Regions from separate parts of the Homo sapiens genome. Here region 1 is linked to region 2. Evidence: fine-mapped expression QTL. Tissue or cell type: testis. Region 2 holds a variant in brackets; the other region holds the start of a gene. All regions are shown on one strand. Distances are from middle to middle.

Region 1 (10,134 bases), 27 kb after region 2:
AACCTCTGCAGGGAAGGGAAAGCAATAACCTCTCTTTGAGTAGAACATAAAAATCTCAGGTTCTTGCTATTTAGTTAAGCAAATATTATGACCTGACTCCAAGAAAAGTATAGAACACAACTTTCAAGCAGATAAAAGACAGAACCCAGAAAGAAGGGAGGGAGGAAGGACCTTCTTTTTCCTTCCCTGCTCAGTCCCTGTGGATAGGAACGAAGGAACTAGACCTTCAGCTGCAGCAGAGTATGTGGGGCTCTCCTTCCCTTCCCTGCTCCAGTCAAGACCTGGTTTTAAGTAAGAATCAGGTCAAGCTGCATTCAGCACATTTTTCAGTTTCTGTGGAAGGATATTTCCAGGAATATCAGGAATAAATCCTTAGTTCTTCCATTTTTAAAGTCAAGATGTTATTCCCTCTCAATCGTATGCTTGGAAACTGAATGTTTAGGCATATTTTGGTGGGTTTTGAGTAAGTGAATGTTATATACTTCACTCAAAAATCTTAGGTACATCTGAAAATATGTCCTTCTATTTCTAGTGGATGTAGATAATAAAAAACATAAACTAATAACCTTAATGTATGCCCTGTTTGAAAACTGAAACAACTCTCTTGTTAGAGAAACTTTCATATAATACCTAGGATTGCATCTCCCAAGATAATGAGTTTGGAACTGTACATTTTTCATCTTTCACTAAAATAAAGACGATGGATGAGCTCCTGGGTTATTTATACTTGTCATCCATAGACAGCTAAACTCTAACAAGTACCTACAATGGAGAGGATTAAAGCATTATATGAATGTAAAATGATTTATAATATCATTTTTATATGTTTTCTTTGTCATAATATTTAGTAATTTCCCCTTCTGTTTTGAATAAAGTTTGAGGCCAGATACAGTGGCTTATGCCTATAATCCCAACACTCTGGAAGGCTGAGGTGGGAGGAATGATTGAAGCCAAGAGTTTGAAACCAGCCTGGGCAACAAAGCAAGACCTCACCTCTGTTAAAAAAGTAAATAAAAATAATTGGCTGGGCATGGTGGCATGCGCCTCTGGTCCCAGCTTCTTTGGGAGGCTGGGGTGGGAGGATCTCTTGAGCCCAGGAGTTCAAGGTTGCAATGAGCTATGATTATGCCACTGCACTTCAGCCTGGGCGACAGAGTGAAAACCTGTCTCTAAAAATTAAAAAAACAAAAAAAGCTTTTAAATAAAGTTTGAAGCTAAATTTTCACTTTAAGAAGCAATAATATGAAACTAAAGCTGAACAGTATTGCTTGACTTAATGTCTTCTATTCATGGTCCAGAATGCAACGTCACAACACATGCTCAGAGGAGAAGTTCAAAAGGGTAACTCTGGCGATGAAGTGTCAGTGGCTCAATTTCATTCCAAGTCTTCGGAGACAAGGTTTGTCAATCGTCTTCACTTTCCGAGTGACACAAACTGATCTGGTAGAGCACATAGACTTCAATGACCGCCCATGTTCACCCTCTGATGAACCAAGGCACTGCACTGAAGTTTTATATTTACATACTTAATCTCCCTCATGTAACTTATAAGCAACTTCTGATCTTATCACTTCTTTATGTCCTGGTACTTAACACAGTGTACAGTATCTATCACTCACTAGGTACTCAATAATTAGTTTTTGACTGAAACTAAATTTTCTGAATTATCAAAAATTAATTCTAGTCAAGATCAGAACTCCTAGTGAGGCCAAATAAAAGAACGTGTCAGGTCTTTCAAATGCCATATTCTTCAAGTTAATTCTTTCCATTAGAACAAGTTACTTCCTACTTTCTCAACATCTGGGTTCCAGATTTAGGAATCCACTCTATCCAAGATAACTTGTATGACAATGAAGATAAGTCCTGGCCACCAAATGAAAAAGTAGCACGCTGTTGCCATGCCTAGCTCTGTGGACAGTTTTTCAGCCTAAGTCATACTGACTCTTGACTGCTCTAGCAGCCAGAGCACAAGATATTGAAGAAACCGAGTTCCTGATCACGAACCTCACCTAGCTCTTCTGCTTTGACATTAGCTGTCCCTGAAAACAAAATCACAAAACTTCACCCACAGAATCAAAATCTGACTTATGTTTAAAATGACACTGTTTTCTAACATGCCAGGCTATTCATATTTCTTCCAATATATGACCAAGTTCATTTTCAACACTTTCAAAACACTATGCCAGGATGCTTAGCCTTAAGGCTACCAAACTAGTCCCAAAAAGATGTAGTATCTGGAAACAATTTAAAGTAATTTGCTACCTCCAGGCATTTTAAAGATCAAAATGAAGAAAAATGAAGTTTTAAACTGAATGAGAGGGAGAGGGGGAACCTAAAGATTTGAACATCGATTTGATAGTCAAAACACCAACAGAAAAAGAAGAGCAGAAAAACAAGCGAAGAGGCTATGATTTTGATATTATGTGCTAGTTTTTAAAAAACATCTAAAGATAGGCCAGACACGGTGGCTCACGCCTGTAATCCAACACTTTGGAAGGCCGAGGCGTGCGGATCACTTGAGGTCAGGAGTTCGAGACCAGTTTGGCCAATATGGTGAACCTCATCTCTACTAAAAATGCAAAAATTAGCCAGGCATGGTGGCGGGCGCCTGTAATCCCAGCTACTCAGGAGGCTGAGGCAGGAGAATTGCTTGAACCCGGGAGGCAGAGGTTGCAGTGAGCTGAGATTGCACCACTGAACTCCAACCTGGGAGACAACGAGACTGTCTCAAAAAAACAAAAAAACTCAAGATTAAAGTAACACAATTGCTGGGGTAAAAAATAACTTACAGAGCCAAAAACGTAACTGTTACAAAGGAAATCTTAATATTTAAATATTTAAAGTTGGTCCTTGCTAATGACGTTTTAAAAAATCAACTAAGATGAAAGTATACAAAATAAGGAATAAACAGTAATTAATACATATTAACAATACCTTTTTAACAGATAAGAGATTATGGAAACTCTCAAATACAAAATAGTGTAAACTGCACTAAAGAGATATTTACATGTTTTTTTCTGAAATAAACTAGTATGATTAAGGGATTGTGATGGCAATTTAACTCCCTTGAAAAAAAAAGAAGATTTCATTATAGGGTATGAAATATGGGGCTCCTGGAAAATTGACGGAAACCAGGACACTGGGAGAAAGGCCCTGGGAGGGACCCCTGAGCATGGTCCCCCTGAGATTTGACCAGTTCCAAAGATAGGCAAGGATCTAGAATGAGAAGAAAGAAGAAAATGTATTTCCCAAACAGCCTCACTGTCAAAGGACTGGGATTCAGCCACTGTACCTTGCAATCCTGATCTCCCATGGGGGAACGACATACTTTTTCCTCTCTAATCATCACTTGTCTCACCCCCACTCTCAACACACACATCCCTCTTAGCACATTAATCAGTGAGACTCCTAAAGGTACAACTTCTGAGATATAAGAAATAGGATCCAAGAAATCAACCCGACATTTTACAGGCAACTGAGCCTTGAGTTCACACATGCTTCCGGGACTTGTGAGCCAGCTCAGCCCTGCGGAGACACCCCCATCTCTTTGAAAGCAAATGCCTTTAGGAGGCGGGGACAGGCGTTAGAAGAGGTGGTGGCAAGGTCCCTGATTTGGGGACTAAGGCTAGGACACTAACCACCATCTTGCCATAAACACTTCCAGATTGGGAATGGGGGGCGGCGGGGGGGTGGGTAAGAGAAGGGACTGGGAAACTGGCAAATTCTCAGACTGGGACTTCAGGATGTGGAAATCGGGAGCCACTGCTGAGGTGGCCAACTGAAGGTGAAGAAGCCCAAGCGTCTGAAGTGCGGGCAGGGCCTGAGGCGTCTCGAGCTTATCCAGCAAGCAAAGCCCGGGCAGCCTAAGCGCGCGCCACCCACACCCAGGTCAATCGTCCTCCCCACCCCCCGCCCTCATCCCAGCCCTCGCGCAGTGCTCCCCCCTTCCCCGACCGCCCCCCAGGCCTCCGTCATTCCCCCTCCCCGCCCGGCCCCGCCTTCGCCTTACACTGAATGGGCGGGTAGCAACTGGGGTCCTCGCCGCCGGGCTGGCAGCGGCTGGAGAAGGCGCTGCGCGGGGTCACGTAGTTGCTGGGGAAGATGCCCACCCGCTGGTTCAGCTGCCCGGTCCACCAGCCCTCGTCGCCGGACACCTGCGAGTCCTTGGACAGCACCTCCACCACGTCGCCCAGCCGCAGGGTCAGCTCGTCCTCGCCCGCCGCCTCGTACTCGAACACGGCCGTCCAGTAGGGCAGCGGCGCGTCGCAGCCCAGCTCCCCGGGGCCCACCGCCGCCGCCGCCTCCTCCTCCTCCTCCTCCTCCTCCTCGGCCCCGGCCCCTGCTCCATCCTCCCCCGGCGGGGCGGCAGCGGCGGCGCTCGCTAGGCAGCCGAGAAGCGCTCTGGAGGGCTCCATGGAGCGGCCGATCCATAGGGTGCGGGGCCGCCGCCGCCCGCAGGAGCCGCCGCCGCCTATTGTTCATGCGCCTCCGCAGAGCTGGGAGGACCCCCCCCCAACGACGGCGGCCGCAGGTAGGGCCCGGGCTGGCAGGGCTGGGAGAGCCGGCTCGCCGGCGCTGTTACCGCGGTACGAGAAGAGCGCCGAGCGCGAGCTCTTCGCGCAGCCTAGGGGCGCAGCGGGCCGAGTCCCCGCCTGCCCGCTCGCCCCCCCGGGGGCGGCCTCGTCACCTCTGCCGCCGGTACCTGCTCGCGCAGCCGGTGCCCGCCGCTGCCAGCCGGCCGCCGCTCTCCTCTCCGCGCCGTGCCGTGCCCCGCCCCCCGCACCGCCAGCTCGCCGGGACCACCTGACGCGGGCCTGGCTCCGCCCCAGCCCTGCGGACCCCAGGGGGCTCCGCCCCACGCCCGCCCCGCCCCGCGCCCGCTGCCTTCCCATTGGCTGCGGCCGCCCAGTCCCCGGTTCCTCCGCCGTGGTTGGGGCAGCCTAGCTGGCCGTCTCGCAGGTCCCTCTCACCCCCTGCGCCGCCGTCGCACCGTGCCCTCCCCCATTGCGGGCTCTGTCATTCTCAAACCCAGGTCGACCCACTCTTCCCGCCCACTGGCCCGCCGCAGCTCCCTCCATTGGCTCGCGGCACCTGTCCGTTTCCTGGGAGAGTTCAGCACCTCCCGGCAGGAAGAGGCTCCGGCCTCATTGGGTGCGTGAGAAGGGAAGGGTGGATCCTAAAAGGTAATACTGAGCCTTCATTCAAACTAAAAGGCTGGAAGGGAGGCAGCTGCCTTTGTTTGCCATGGATGGGTAGGGGCTGCACTGAGCAGCACCGGTGTTCTTCATCCGGCTGCACCCCCAACAGAGCTCTTTCTTCCCCAGATCCCTTTTACAGTTGGATTCTCCCTCTTGGATCTGGCTCTGCCTTAGTCCGACCTAGAGGGATCAGCTTCGCCCACGCCCACTCTCACCCGGAACCTTTCATCTCTTATTGAAGCCTTTTAGGCCCATTGGGATGTTCATTAGAACTCTGAAAACTACAGTTCTCCCCTTTATGAGGACTGCACCACAGCTCGCCCTCTCCTGGGTTCCGGTAAGAAGAGATTCCAATACCACTCTTTTTTCAGAATTCAGAAAGGCAAGAGACCACCTTACTGAGCTTCAAACTGGGGCTGGGAACGCTGCCATGAATTGGGCTTGGTCTGTCTGAAGGGAGCCACCTTTTCGACAATCCTTAGACTTCTTTTGCCTGTTGGAATTACACCTTGGATCGTGGCGAAGTCTATAGAGGTCAGATTAAGAAGAACCAAAGCAGAATAAACGTAGAACCCGATGCTGAGTTCACGAGTGAGGACGACCTCTTCCTATATGCTTTGCTATACCCTGCGTTTTGAACATTAAGGACGAGATAGGAGGCCCATAATGTTTCTTCTTGCTTTAATCCTGTCGTGGCAACGTTGACTTCCAGTAAGAAAGGTTCTCTGATCTTTTTTTCTCTTTTCTTTTCTTTTCTTTTCTTTTCCTTTCTTTTCTTTTCTTTTCTTCCAGGGTCTCAGTTTGTTGTCCAGGCCAGAGTGCAGTGGCGCAATCTCGGCTCACTGCAGCCTCAACATCCTAGGCTCAAGCCATCCTCCCACCTCACCCTCCCGAGTAGCTGGAAGTACAGGCTCGTCTTGAACTCTGGGCTGAAGTCATCCACCTGCCTCGGCCTCCCAAAGTGCTAGGATTACAGGCCTTAGCCACCTCACCTAGTCCTCTGAAATTTCTAAATAAGCCAGTGCTGAAGGATCTAGCCCAACTTCTACCAAACTTTGTTACCTTTTCCCCTTCAGTGGTAGGAATAGACATGATTTATTTAGCAAGGGTGAGTGCTTTTGTTGAATTTTAGTTTGGGGTTTATTATTACACAAACTAAAGACAGCGGGGCAATTTGGAAAGATAACTAGGCAGCTGCATGACTTCAGGCAGGTGTCCTAACACTGTACTCTTAAAGTGAGGGGAGTGAACTGGAAGATATCCTGTGTCCTCATAGTTTGAACATTCTGTGGTTCGCTCATCAATATGACTACACTGTATAGTCATAGCACACATTTGAGGTCTTGAAGAAGAGAGATGAGGCTTGTTCTAAAAAGCATCCAGAGTAGGTCTTGAAAAAGGATTTCTGTTTAAGTAAAGACCTAAAACAATGCTCAGATTCCTATTATACATAGGATCCATGAACTGGAAAAGATATGGATGAGTCTGAGTAAATTATCTAGGTTTTGTTTTAGACAAAACCATTCCACTGTCAAGCAGCAGAGAGCAAGGGAGTGGGGATGGAGGTATATTGTGTTTTTTTAAAGGCCATAAGAAAATAATTGTCTTGATAAAATTTTAACTTAGGACTGGGTATGGTGGCTCGTGCCTGAAATCTCAGCAGTTTGGGAGGCTGAGGCAGGAGGATCACTTGAGCCCAGGAAGGAGACCAGCCTGAGCAACATGGCGAGACCCCTATCTCTACAAAAAATGTTAAAATTTGCCAGGCATGGTGGTGCAAGCCTGTAGTCCCAGCTGTTTGAGAGGCTGAGGCAGGAAGATTGCTTGAACCTAGGAGGTCAAGGCTGTAGTGAACAGTGTTTGCTATACCACATTCCAATCTGGTGACAAAGCAAGACCCTGTCTCAAAAAAAAGAATTTTTTTTAACTTGAGGGAAAAAAAGTTTTACAAACTGTAGACACACAGCAAAACAGAAACAGGAAAAAAAGTACTAAAAAGAGAAAAATGTCAGTAGTGGGTCTCTAAGTAGTCGGATTATGAGTAATTGGGTAAGTTTATTGTCATTTTGCTTCTCCATAATTTCGTATGTTCTACTATTTAGTTTTGTGGATTCCTTCCCACTCCCTGGGAAGAGGGGAAGAGAGGAGAAAAATCATTGATTCTTCTCAATAGGAAAACTAATTCCCTGTGCAACTTAAACCTTTAATACCATAGCATGTGTTTAGAATCTCATAAAGAATCATTCATCAAACATTTCAACAAGTCATTCAGTTAATATTTGTTGAATGGGTAAGTGCTAGGAATTCAAATGAGGGTAGATCTTTCAGACTAAACTTGTCTGGCAGGGTTGCATGGAAGAAGCAGAACCAGAACTGGTCCTGGAGGGGAATGGGGTGGAGCAGGGAAGAGTGTGTTCAGGAAAGGAGGGTGGGAATAGGCACAGCCACAGACGTAGGAAAGCATGGAGAGGGGACCATTTGGATGGAATAGAAGGATGAGAAAGAACTGAAAAGATAGGTTGAGACCAGACTGTAGAGGGCCCTGTAATCACTTGATTCACACTAGTAATTATGTAATTGATTATTTGTAATTATTTAATGTCTGGTGCATCCACCATAAGGGTAGGAACCAGTCTGTCTGGTTCTCCACAGCTCTCCCAGCACCTAGAGAGTGCTTAGCACATAATTGACTCTCAGTACTTCTTTGCAACTGGATGGCTGACTTGAATCCCAGGCGAAGAAGCCTTGGTTTTGTTCAGCATGTAAAAGATTATCACTGAAAGGTTTTGAGTAGGGCTGTGGGGTGATCAAATACTGCCTTCCCTGAGGACTAGAATGGATGAGGAGATGCTTAAGTTGGGCATTGAAAGATATGTACAACCTGATTAATAGAGAATAAAAGATGTGGAAATAGAAATTAATGTAGTGGGTAGCAATAATAGAAATTTCATCCAGAGAAGAGGAGAGAATGCAAAAAGGGAGTGATGGGAAATAAAACTGATGAAATAAAAGAAGGGCAGATTGTAAAAGACTTTGAAAGTCAGGTGGAATTACCAAGATTTTACCACTATGAAGTTTTTGAGGAGGGGATTGGCAGATGTCACCCCAAAAAAGAAACATTTTCTCTACCACGCTGAAAAGCATAGCATAAGGGAGAAAATAGCAATCAAGATGCAAGTTGGCATTAGACTTAAGTCAACAGATCATGGTTTATCCTGGCTTTGTCCTTTAAAAATGCTGTGACTTTGGGCAAGACACCAGTTTGAACCTCAGTTTCCTCAATTTTAAGTAGGTGTAATAATAATACCTGGTTTTAATGGATGTTTACAGGATTAAATGAGACAGGACATGCAGAAGCTCTTAGCTTGCTGCTCACACCCAGCAAATAGTCAACATATTTTTTTCCTTCTTTCACCTGCCCATTACCCCCAAGAAACACTCTTTAATTACACCTAGGCCTCTTGACTGAAAGTTGAACCCAGGGTTTTCCCTAAAGGAAAGAGAGAGAAGGAAGGAAGGAAAAAGGAACAGAGGCCTCTGGGAGGCCGAGATGGGTGGACCACTTGAGCTGAGGAGTTCAAGACCAGCCTGGGCAACATGGTGAAACCCCATCTCTACAAAATAGAAAAATTAGCCAGGCATGGTGGTGCCTGTGGTCCTAGCTTTTGGGAGGCTGAGATGGGAGGATCGCTTGAGCAGAGATGTTGAGGCTGTAGTGAGCTGAGATTGCTCCACTGCACTCTAGCCTGGGTAACAAAACGAGACCCTCTCTCTCAAAAAAAAAAAAAGGAACAGAAAGGAGAGGAGAGGAAGGGGTGAAGGAAGGAGGGAGGGCAGGAGGAGAGGGAAAGAAAGAAAGGACGAAAAAGAGAAAAACAGGAAGGAAGCAGGGAGGGGAGAAAAGGAAGGAAAGAAAGGAGGGAAGGGAAGAAAGAGGGCAGGCATCATAGACTATTGAAGAATTTGGGGTCTTGGCTTCTGACTGAGTTTGAATCTATGCTTACTGTGTGCCATTAGGCAAGTTAACCCTGCTGTGCCCCAGATCCCTCACCTGGAAATTAGGGATAATTGTACCTATCTTATATATGTTATGTGCTTAACACATAATCTAGCATGTAGTTACTGGTATTATTTGAGCCTAAACCGTGACTTAGTTAATGAATGTCACCCTTTCCTTGATTCTTTTGGGAAATATTTAAAATTAGTACTTTGATGTAAAAAAAAAAAATCCCTCAAGCAGACTTTTACCTTTTTTTTTTTTTTTTTTTAAAGAAACAAGGTCTCACTGTGTCACCCAGGCTGGAGAGCAGTGGCACGATCATAGCTCACTGATCACATGGCAGCCTCAAACTCCTGGACTCAGTGGGTCCTCCTGCCTCAGCATCCTGAGTAGCTGGGACTACAGGTGCGTGCCACCACACCTGGCAAATTTTGTTAATTTTTGGTAGAGATAAGGACTCACTGTGTTGCCCAGGCTGGCTTCAAACTCTTGGCCTCAAGTGATCCTCCTGCCTCCATCTCTTCAAATGCTGGGATTACAGGTTTGAGCCACCGTGCCTGGCCCCTTTGACCTTTTCTAAAAGAGCCAGCCCACCACTTTCACCTCTCATGTGTACCATTTCAGGAAAGAAGCCCTAGTTCCTGTTTCATAAACTCCATTTGCATTAAATATGATTTTAGGCAAATGGTTTGGGCAGATATGTGGCAGGGCTGATGGAACAGACCTGTGGAGTCAGACCCAGACAAGTCTTGATCAACTTGTCATGACTGTGGGAGGCCTTTCACCTCTCTGAGCCTCTGTTTCATTGTTGGTAACATGAGATTGTATAAAATGGGGTTGCTGTGAAGGTTAGATGAAGTAAGAGGTCCTCCTGGCAGTGCCTAATACATAATAATAAGTGCTTAATAAATTGTAAATGTTATTACAGTTGATAGT
Region 2 (10,134 bases):
AACCACTGTGGTTACTAGAAAAGGTCGACAGTCACCTACACAGAAAAAAGGAAAGGAAAAGAGAGGGATAAATAGATGATCCTATAAAGGAAACTAGGACGGAACCTCTCTCTCTCCCTTTTGTTTTTTGTTGTTTGTTGTTGTTGTTATTGTTGTTGTTGTTGTTTTGAGACAAGGTATCACTCTGTCACCCAGGCTGGAGTGCAGTGGTATAATCTCAGCTCACTGCAACCTCTGCCCCCTGCTGCCTTGGGCTCAAGCAATCCTCCCACCTCAGCCTCCCAAGTAGCCTCAACCACAGGCACACATCACCACGCCCAGCTATTTTTTTTTTTTTTTTTTGAGACGGAGTCCCCCTTTGTCACCCAGGTTGGAGTGTCACGACGCGATCTCTGCTCACTGCAACTCCGTCTCTCAGGTTCAAGCAATTCTCATGCCTCAGCCTCCTGAGTAGCTGGGATTACAGGTATGTGCCACCACACCTGGCTAATTTTTGTGTTTTTAGCAGAGACGGGGTTTCGCCATGTTGGCCAGGCTGGTCTCAAACTCCTGACCTCAGGTGATCCACCGTCCTCGGCCTCCCAAAGTGCAGGGGTTACAGGCATGAGCCACTGCACCAGGCCAAACTTCTCTCATTCTGGCCATATAAGTCTACACCTATAACACTGTCATCATCATTGCTAGCATTTACTGAGCACTTACCACATGGCAGGCACCATGCTAAGCATTTTACGTGCAGTACTTATATAAAAACAGATGTACTGTTTTAATCTCTATTTACGGATATGTACTGTTTTAATCTCTACTTACAGATGAAGAAGCTGTGGCTGAGAAGTGAGGATATTCCCCTGAGCTACCCAGCCAGAAAGTGGTAAAGTGGGGACCACTGGCTACTCTCATGCTCTTGATGATGCCTTACCCTACCCCGTCCACCCATCTTGTTTGAACACCTAACATGGAGGATGCCTGAAACTAGAATGTACAGAGGAAGGGGCTCCTTAGAAGGGGCTCACAGAATAAACAACTGCTCTCTGTGCTGTAACGAGAGGACAGGGTTTGGTCCAGGGGGAGAATCAGAAGAAAGACCACTCCCAGCAGAGGGAATAACGTGAGTCCAGGTCCAAGAGGGCTGAGGGGCCTTGACATATCTAAGAAATAGTCCCTTGTAGCTGGAGCAGAACTTTCATGAGGTAGAAAGGGAGAAGAAGGAGCCGCAGTGAAGGGCTGGGGCAGGACTGGAAGACTACAGACCCTGCCAAGGAACTTGGAAATGACCCTGGAGTCACAAGTAGTTTTTAAGCAGAAAAGTGTTGTGACAAGATTTGAGTTTCAGCAAAACAACTATGGTTGCAGTGAGACAAATTAAACTGAAAAAGCAACAGACTGGCAGTGAGCCACAGTAAGTAACCTATTACAATTGTCCAGGGGACAATGGTGAATGACAAACTCAAGTACTGGGGATGGAAAGGATGGGACAGTCAGACAGAGTAATTAATTTCACATACACGGAGAAAGAGTGGTCCATGAGTCCTAGGAAATCTCTCTGACATCACATCACTTACTTGCTCTGGCTAAGTCCCTGTATGTCACCAATCTCACAGGAATATACTAGCATTTAGTGAGTTCAGCGGGGTTTAGTGGTCCCACTCCTCCTACCTCTAGGCTAACATTCACCCACCCACTCTTCCCTTCCAACAGGAACTGAAGCTTCTGCAGCCACAAACACCTAGAAACAGGGTTCCTTCATTTTCAGTTGTAGCTACCAACTCACATATTACTGACTGCTACTAACTAGACCAGATGCAATTCCACAGTTCTGGCATGCTGAGAACAGCCACTCCTTGCCAACGCGGCTCAGTCCTGCATTCATTTGGGACATCTCTGGCAAGCCCCCAGGTATCAGTGCAATGCACTTTGCAATGTCAGCCAAGGGCATGCAGCAAGGAACTCAGGGAATGGCACAACCTAAGAATGACGTCAGAGGAGACAGAACGGATAGATGAGCTTCCTGGGGCTGGCTAGTGTCTTGATCCTTCAGACAGGCACCCAGGCCTTATGCAAAGTTTTCAGACAGGCTGGTTAGTTAACAAGATTGGGATACTAGGGTGATAGTTTGAACCAGGCCACTCCCAAACAACTCTGGCTGGCCATAATGTGCATATGTGTTCTGGGGAACAAGGGAACAAATCAGATGTATTCATGTGGACCAGCACTGGAGAAACAACCCAAAGCACCAGGCTTCCTCATAATGTGCCCACATCCATGCCTGCCGCATGACTTAACAGCATGAGGTGTGGATTTCTGCTGCCTTGTTGGGCTGGAGGATAGAAGGAGACATGATAGGGAACTAATATATTTATAGGCCTCCTGTAGGCACAGCACAATTCATCAGCCTTGAAAAATGACTCCTTTAACCAGCCCCAACTTTCTATGGGAACTTCACTTTCATCTCTTTCTTGGAGGCCGTACCCACTTCCCACATCTCCCATGCTGCTGAGTGAAAGGTTCTCATGATTAAAACAGAAGAATAAGCACCATCTCCCTGACCAAACCTCCCACGTGTCTGCAGGACACCTAGCTCTCTCTAACATCCTAAAATATAACTGCTTCAAAAGGCGTCAACTTGGACACCTACAGCCCTTGCCATCTTGTGCAAATTAAGCCCAGAAAACACAGCTGGGACTCCATCCCTCACCTCATCCAGGCGCAGATATCACCAGCAGGAAACAGAAAGCCAGAGGCTTTTGTGCAGCCACTTTCCTTACTAAAGAACATCTCCTTAAACACCTGCCTCCCCTGAATTTTCTCATCGTATCAGCTCAAACTGACTGAGAAGAGCTGCCAGATCTCCGTCATACCTCTGAAGTACCCAGCTACATACCAGATAAAAATAACCAAAAAAGAGGAAGCCTATCAGATGCTCGATGGTTTTGTCAACAGAAAGCAGTTCTTTCTTGGCAGGTGGCCATGGGGTGCAGCCGCCGCACAGGCTCTCCAGGGCCTTGTATCCCCAAGCTCTGCTAGCAGAGTTCCCTTAGCAGGCATGGAAGGTTGCATTTTCAAAGTGGTCCATCATCTCCCATCCTCTGTGCTTTTCCCCAGTGTGATCTTGACACTTTTCCCACTGAGAGGTGGGTCTGTGTCCTCTCCACTTGAAGCTGAGTGGTCTTGAGACTCACTTTAACAGAATGCAGAAGAAATGACAATGCCCGACTTCTAAGCTAGATCAGAAAAGATGCTACAGCTTCCCCATGTTCACTGGAACACTTGGGTCTGCAGCCTTGAGCCACTATGTAAGGCCAAGAGCCCTAAGAGAGCCATGCTCATGGACAGACTGCACATGGGCACTCCCATCAGCAGTCCTGGCCTCCAGCTTCTCCCAGCTCAGGCACTGAGCCATGTGTGTGAACAACCTTCAGATGGTTCCTGCCTCCATCTGCAGCCTCCCCTAGCCTTCAAGTCTTCCCAGGTGAGGCCCCAGACATTGACAAGCCATCCCTAATGAGCTCTTTCCAAATTCCTGACCCAAGTCTCCATGAGCTTAATAAAATGTTCTTGTTTGGGGTCGTTTGTTCTGAAGAAATAGTAATGGAAACAGTAGGTGATACACTGTGAGTCTAGTCTCATATCTGCTGCTGCTCTTGAATTTTTTAAAAAGGAAAAACTACCTTTTACTGAGCATTTACTTTGTGCCAGGCATTATGCTAAGGGTTTACACACATAACTTCATTTAATCCTCATTATAATGCCATGAGTAAATACTAGAATTATCCCCATTTTACAGAGGAGGAAATGGGCTCAGGGTCGAGGACTTTGCCCAAAGCCAGGTCTGCCTGATTCAGAGCCCACAACTGTACCAGCCCACAACTGTACCAGCCCAGGTTCTCTGGCCACTTAGAAAGAGGAGCTGTTTCACATGGAAGACTCAACTTCTTGGGAGCATGGCTTTCCTAGTCAACATTCCAGGTCTGGGAATTGCCTAAAGAACCCAGGTGATGGGACATGGCATCAGTGAACACTTGGCTCTGTCTGAGCTGGGGCAGGCCGCCTTCCCTGGGAGGTCATAGCTATGGCCTACCTGCCCTATTACCAACTCTTGAATCCTACCCCTTCTTTGAGGCCTAATTGTTCCATCAAGGCCTCCCAGGGAATTCTGCCTTCTCCAGACCCCATCTCATGTATCTTGACACGCTGCCCCCTACTACATCACACTGTTCTGGTTGTTTAGGATGTGTTTACATAGCACAACTCCTAAGGATGGAAAGAATGCAGTGGAAGTGACCTCTATGTTATGTATATAATAAATTGACCGTATTTCTTACAGCATGTATGCAATAGCAGGCACGTCAATTTCTTATGAGGACATTTGGGTAATAAAATTACCCACATCGGTTGAGAATCATGATCTATACAAAAAGAAAACATTCCAGGCTCTGTGACCTGCACTTCACCCCAGGCATTGCAGAGGAGAAAGGATTTGAGGGCAGAGGAGGAAGCGGTACAAGCCACCACAGATACCACCTTCATCCCATCACCTTGCAGGCAAGGAAGTCCCAACCACAAAGGCTCGAAACACTGGGAGTTGCCATTGTGAACCACAAGTCCTTAATAGCCCTGGAAAGCTATGAAACACCAATTAAAGTTTCCTATGAATCACTTTTCAACCTCTCCATGTAAGAGCAGGGAGGAACCAACCTCAAGTACCTCCTCAGGCCAAGACTAGCTTTGCTCTGACTCACTGTCTTTCAGTCTATGATATGGATGCTTTTCTAATTCCTTCCTCCCACCTCCATGTCCATTGCATGGGGAAGATGAGACTTCCTAGCATCTTCCTAGTCTACCTCTGAATATTACTCTACAAATCCTGTTCCCCATGAGACAGAGTTGAGGATCTCACCATGGTAGGGAAAATTCAAAACTATACAAATTCTCTAGATGTTACACCTCAGTTTCCAGGTGAAAGCCAGTCCTTTCCTTCCTTCCCTGCTACCTGGAAGGTGGGCATAACAGGCATACCCAGAAACTGCTGGGAAAACGCTCAAATGCCGTGTTCTCTGCCTTCAGTGAATGCCCATGTAAGGAAAAGTCTTAGAATATCTTATTTTTCCTCAGTGGGGTCACTTTTACTCTTCCTGGAAGGTCATTATCCCAGTCTCTCCACCAATATACTACACATCAAATCAAGCATCAAAATGCTTGTAAGAAACCTAAAATTGGCCAGATTCATGGTCCATGCAACTAGAGTCAAGCATATAAAGCCACAGACTCACATGTTAGAAGCCCAGGACAGTACTGTGTCCAAACAACGGTAAGGTGGGAAGGAAGACGGCATCCTAAAGTAAATTCAAATTAGTCTGACTCTTATTTTTCTTGAGCATCCAAAGGTTTCATATGATCCACAGCAACGCTTCCTCAAATACCCCTTTTTAATTCCATCCACTGTCCTTATAGAAAGAAGCTCCCTCATTTCCTGCTCAAAATTCCTCCCAAAAGAGCTCCTGAAGGATT[C/CT]ACTCTTTGTCCCCTCCCCTTTCCTCCCATCACAAAGCTCTAAAGTTCCAGGAGCAGCAAAATCCAAATTCTCTTTGTGAGGTGGGCGAAGGAAATAGCCGGGAGGCTTCACTCATTGATAGTCCAGGTGTTATTCCACCAGCAATCAATCCAAATTGGAGCTTCAAGGAATGAACAGTGAAGTCAAATTTGTCTTTCATAGTATTCATCTAAAAGTGTTAAGTGGGCACCACAAAGCATGCTCAGCGCTCCTCCAGGAGGAATGGAACTGCTCTCTTGCTCACGCATGGTCCATTTGGCCATAAATTCAGCTGCAAAGAAACACCCCAGAAAGGCCCGCTCACCTCCCAGACTACACAGAGCTGAAAGACGTGGCATCTGAATAACCACACAGGGCTCTGCAATTAACAGACGTGTCCAAACCCTTTTTGAATGTTTATATTACTTTTCTGGTTAAAATTTTTTAAATTCCATAAACAATCATCTGTGAATGTATCTGAAATCTATATATACTTCTTTTGTTTAAACAAAAACAAACCACGGCCAGGCGCAGTGGCTCACGCCTGTAATCCCAGCACTTTGGGAGGCCGAGGCAGGCAGATAGCCTGAAGTCAGGAGTTCGAGACCAGCTTGACCAACATGGTGAAATTGCACCTCTACTAAAAATACAAAACTAGCTGGGCATGGTGGTGCATGCCTGTAATCCCAGCTACTTGAGAGGCTGAGGCAGGAGAATCGCTTGAACCCGGGAGGTGGAGGCTGCAGCAAGCTGAGATCGCGCCACTGCACTCCAGCCTGGGAAACAAGAGCAAAACTCCGTCTCAAAACAAAAAAAAATACTAAAATAAATAAAATAAAATAAAAAACAAAACCACAACACAAACACAAGTAAGTACAAGAGCCCAATAACATGGAAGCTTCTGCGATGGCCCAACTTCTGGACAGCTGTATGCAAGCACAATTTTGGTTCAGGACAAACACTAACAAGAAGCAAAGCTGAAGCCGGGCACAGTGGCTCATGCCTGTAATCCCACAACTTTGGGAGGCCGAGGTGGGCAGATCACTTGAGGACAGGAGTTCAAGACCAGCCTGGCCAATATGTTGAAACCCCATCTCTACTGAAAATACAAAAATTAGCCAGGTGTGGTGGCAGGCGTCAGTAATCCCAGCTACTCAGGAGGCTGATGCAGGAGAACTGCTCGAACCCGGGAAGTGGAGGCCACTGTACTCCAGCCTGGGAGACAGAGTGAGTGAGATGGAAGAAGAAGCAAACCTGAGGCTACAGAAGGATGGCTGAGGTTCAAATTGTGCTTTTGGAGGGGCCCTGGGGAAAAGAGAAATGAGAAACTAGCTCTCAGGTCTTGTGCATTTTAGGACCATCAGGTCTGGAGGTACCAGAGGTCCTGGGTTGGAGAAATAAAGGATCCCCTATCTGTAGTTCGAAATGTGGGGATGATCTACCCCACAAAGTCCCCAAGACCAGGTTTAATGTCCAGGTCTAGCCCTGTTGCACCCAGACTCTGGTGAGTCACAGGGTCCGTCCTGCAGAACAAGGTGCTAGAGAAGGATCTCCTATTGCAGTCTGTTTCCAACAAGCAGAGCAGAAAGAAAACCATGCAAGCACTCAAGAGCCTGGTATTTGAGTCCAGGCCCTATCATTCTCTAGCTATGTGTTCTTGGGCAGGGCATTGTTAAACCTCCCTGAGCCTCAGCTTCCTCTGTTATAAAATGGGGATACTACCACCTCTTCCTGGAGTACCTCAGGTAGATACTGTTTCAAATAAAATTCTAAAGGACCAAATACAAAGCATGATTACAGGAGTCCCTCCTTATCTTCAGGGGACACATTCCAGGATCCCCAGTGGATGCCCCAATCCATGGATAGAACCCTGTATATACTGTTTTTTCCTATACATTCATACCTATGATAAAGTTTAATTTATAAATTAGGCACAGTAAGAGATTAACACTAACAATAAAATAGAACAACTATACTATAAGAAAAGTTTTATTAATGTGGTTTCTCTCTCTCTCTGAAAAGATCTTGTTGTACTGTATTCGCCCTTCTTGTGACGTTATGAGATGAAAAAATGGGTACGTGATGAGATGAAGTGCGCGGTAGATGACATAGGCGAGGTGACACAGTGACACAGTGTTTGGTACTCCCAACCTTCTGATGTGTAGTCAGAGGATCGTCTGCTTTGGATGACCCGGGATCATTGAGTTGTGACAATGTCAATGGTTGGATGTCAGGACAGACCATGTGGATGACTAATGGGCAGGTAGTACACCCAGTGTGGACATGCTGGACAGGATGTGATTCACATCCCACACAAGAAGGGGTGGGAAGGCGTGAGACTTCATTGCGCTACTCAGAATGGTGTGCAATTTAAAACTTATGAATCGTTATTTCTAGAATGTTCCATGTAATATTTCTGGACCACAGTTGACTATGAGTAACTAAAAACAGGGAGAGTGAAATGGCAGATAAGAGGGGACTACCATACTCTTTCTACTACCTCTAGGACTATTTGGGGGATGAAGGAAATGAGGGCCATGTATTACTGTCACCATGAATAATAAGCCAAGGAGAGTATCAGATAATATCAGGTTACACTAATAATCTTAAGTCATCTGAAGCTTATGTGGGAAAATTTTACGTCCTTAGTTGATTTTCCATTGCCATCCATGGGATGTGATGTGGCATCTCCCCTTGTCACTAGCTGCTGTGCATTTGGGCAAAGCAAGCTATTTTATTATTAATTTAATCCAAATACTTAGTAAGGGTAGGTCTCCTAAGGCAGGGGAGAGGGGAAAACAACTCTCTATCACACAACTGTGCCAATAACAGGGAGATTATTAACAATCCACTCCAGGATTCCCATCTATCTCTCAGCGGGGATTCCTATCTCTAAGCACAGGGAGCCAGGAGTCTACTGCTTAAGAAATAAAAAATGTTTTTATTATTCTTTTCTTCCTAAAAATTGTACCACCTAGAAGAATACTGAACACTGTTATCCTTCTACATAACATACCAAAGACCGAGTTCATGTTAGTAACCAGGAAAAACACTGACTTCACCCCAAACTTTGACCTTGGGACCTTACAAGGAAATTGTCCCCCTGGTTCCTCGAATGGGGTACAGATCCTGTTTCCACTGTTGTCTGAAATACTTTGGTCCTAGCTGGAAAGCCTGGCAGAGTAACAGTGTTCCATTGTCGGGCTAAAAGAAGGAACACTATCATGAGCATCAGGATGACCTTAGGCAAGTCACTCAGCTTCTCTAGTTCACAACTGTAAGGTTCCAGTAAGCTCTAATCATATCTATAAGCAAAAAAGAAAGTCAAGAATGACCAGAATCCAAAATCTATCGCTATTTTCCCTACCCACAGTCCTTTTCTCCTTCCTCTTATTTATTGTTTTTATTTTTAGTTTTTTGGTTTTTCTTGGTACTCACTGATTAAGGCATCCTCCTTCCTCTTGGACCCTGAAGGTTAACAGAATGCAGAAACAAAAACAAATTTTAAGTGTCCAGATGGCATGTACACCGTGAATAAAACAGCAGGAGGAGATGAGGTATATAGATAAGAATAGGAAAGCCAAATATAAAGATGAAAACAGTTGTATCTGCACACTGGAATCTAGCATAACTATTTTTTTTTCCTTTTTCAATGATACTTTTTCCTGTTATATTGCCTCATAAGCCACATCAGCTTGCAGTCACAAGGATTTGCAGAGAAAGATCTTAACTATAAGATCAGTCACTGGCTGGGCGCAGTGGCTCACACCTGTAATCCTAGCACTTTGGGAGGCCAAGACGGGCGGATCACAAGGTCAGGAGTTTGAGACCAGCCTGGCCAACATAGTGAAACCCCGTCTCTACTAAAAATACAAAAAACTAGCTGGGTGTGGTGGCGGGCACCTGTAATCCTAGCTACTCGGGAGGCTGAGGCAGGAGAATCACTTGAACCTCAGAGGCAGAGGTTGCAGCAAGCCGAGATGGCACCACTGCACACCAGCTCGGGCAACAGTACAAGACTCTGTCTCAAAAAAAAAAAAAAAAAGATCGGTCATTGCCAGCATCCTGATGCCCACCTGCTGCAATGGGCCCCACTCCCAAACCTGCTCCAAGGGATGGATGGACAGTCAGTACCTTCACAGCTGGGCAATTCCAAAGACACACATTGGGCTTCTGACTTTACAAGCTACTCCAAGGAACACCTTCCTCTAGGGTCCCAAGCCCCTGAGAAGTTTATGAAATAGATATATAAAAGCAAAGGCTTGAAGAGAACAAACAAAGCTCATTCAGTAAAAGTGTTTTGAGTCCATCCAGAAAGGAACTAGGGACAAAAAAAAACACACAAACAAAACAAGATTTTTTGGTTGGCCACATTGGAATTGCCACCAAACACCTGGGCTGCTACATGCGAAGTCCTATACTAGGGATGATGTGAGGGGAGACAGAGATGGGGGGAGCAAGGGAAGACGAAGGGATGAAAAACAGCAACACCTCTGCTGTCCAGAATTCTATTGGGATTTCTATGTTTTCATAGAAAAAAAGTTATCAGAGACAAAAAGATACTTAATCGCATTTGCCTCTAAGAAGTAAACTTAGGGTTTGGGAGG

Alleles and levels. Alleles are on the strand shown, and positions count from the first base shown. SD is a standard deviation of normalised expression in the study named.
For the expression in testis of the gene that starts at base 4,757 in region 1, CT is the high allele of the variant in region 2 and C is the other (moderate effect, 0.43 SD a copy in GTEx).

The links. PIP is the estimated chance that this variant, and not a neighbour inherited with it, causes the effect.
Region 1: it holds the start of MAP3K9, and the variant in region 2 is fine-mapped to the expression of MAP3K9 in testis (GTEx, PIP above 0.99).

Annotation. Positions count from the first base shown.
Region 1 is chr14:70,804,757-70,814,890 of GRCh38, forward strand. MAP3K9 (mitogen-activated protein kinase kinase kinase 9) reads right to left here and starts at 4,757. Exons shown (of 12, transcript NM_001284230.2): 1 at 4,010-4,757. The coding sequence starts at 4,415. It overlaps MAP3K9-DT (MAP3K9 divergent transcript), which reads left to right and starts at 4,028. Exons shown (of 2, transcript NR_184164.1): 1 at 4,028-4,531. RefSeq lists an enhancer at 3,319-3,378 and a silencer at 4,319-4,958.
Region 2 is chr14:70,777,953-70,788,086 of GRCh38, forward strand. The region is part of intron 2 of MAP3K9 (mitogen-activated protein kinase kinase kinase 9); the gene reads right to left. Among named protein-coding and RNA genes, the nearest start is that of MAP3K9-DT, 26 kb to the right of the region's middle. RefSeq lists an enhancer at 2,737-2,826. The variant C/CT (reference allele first, on the strand shown) is at 5,509.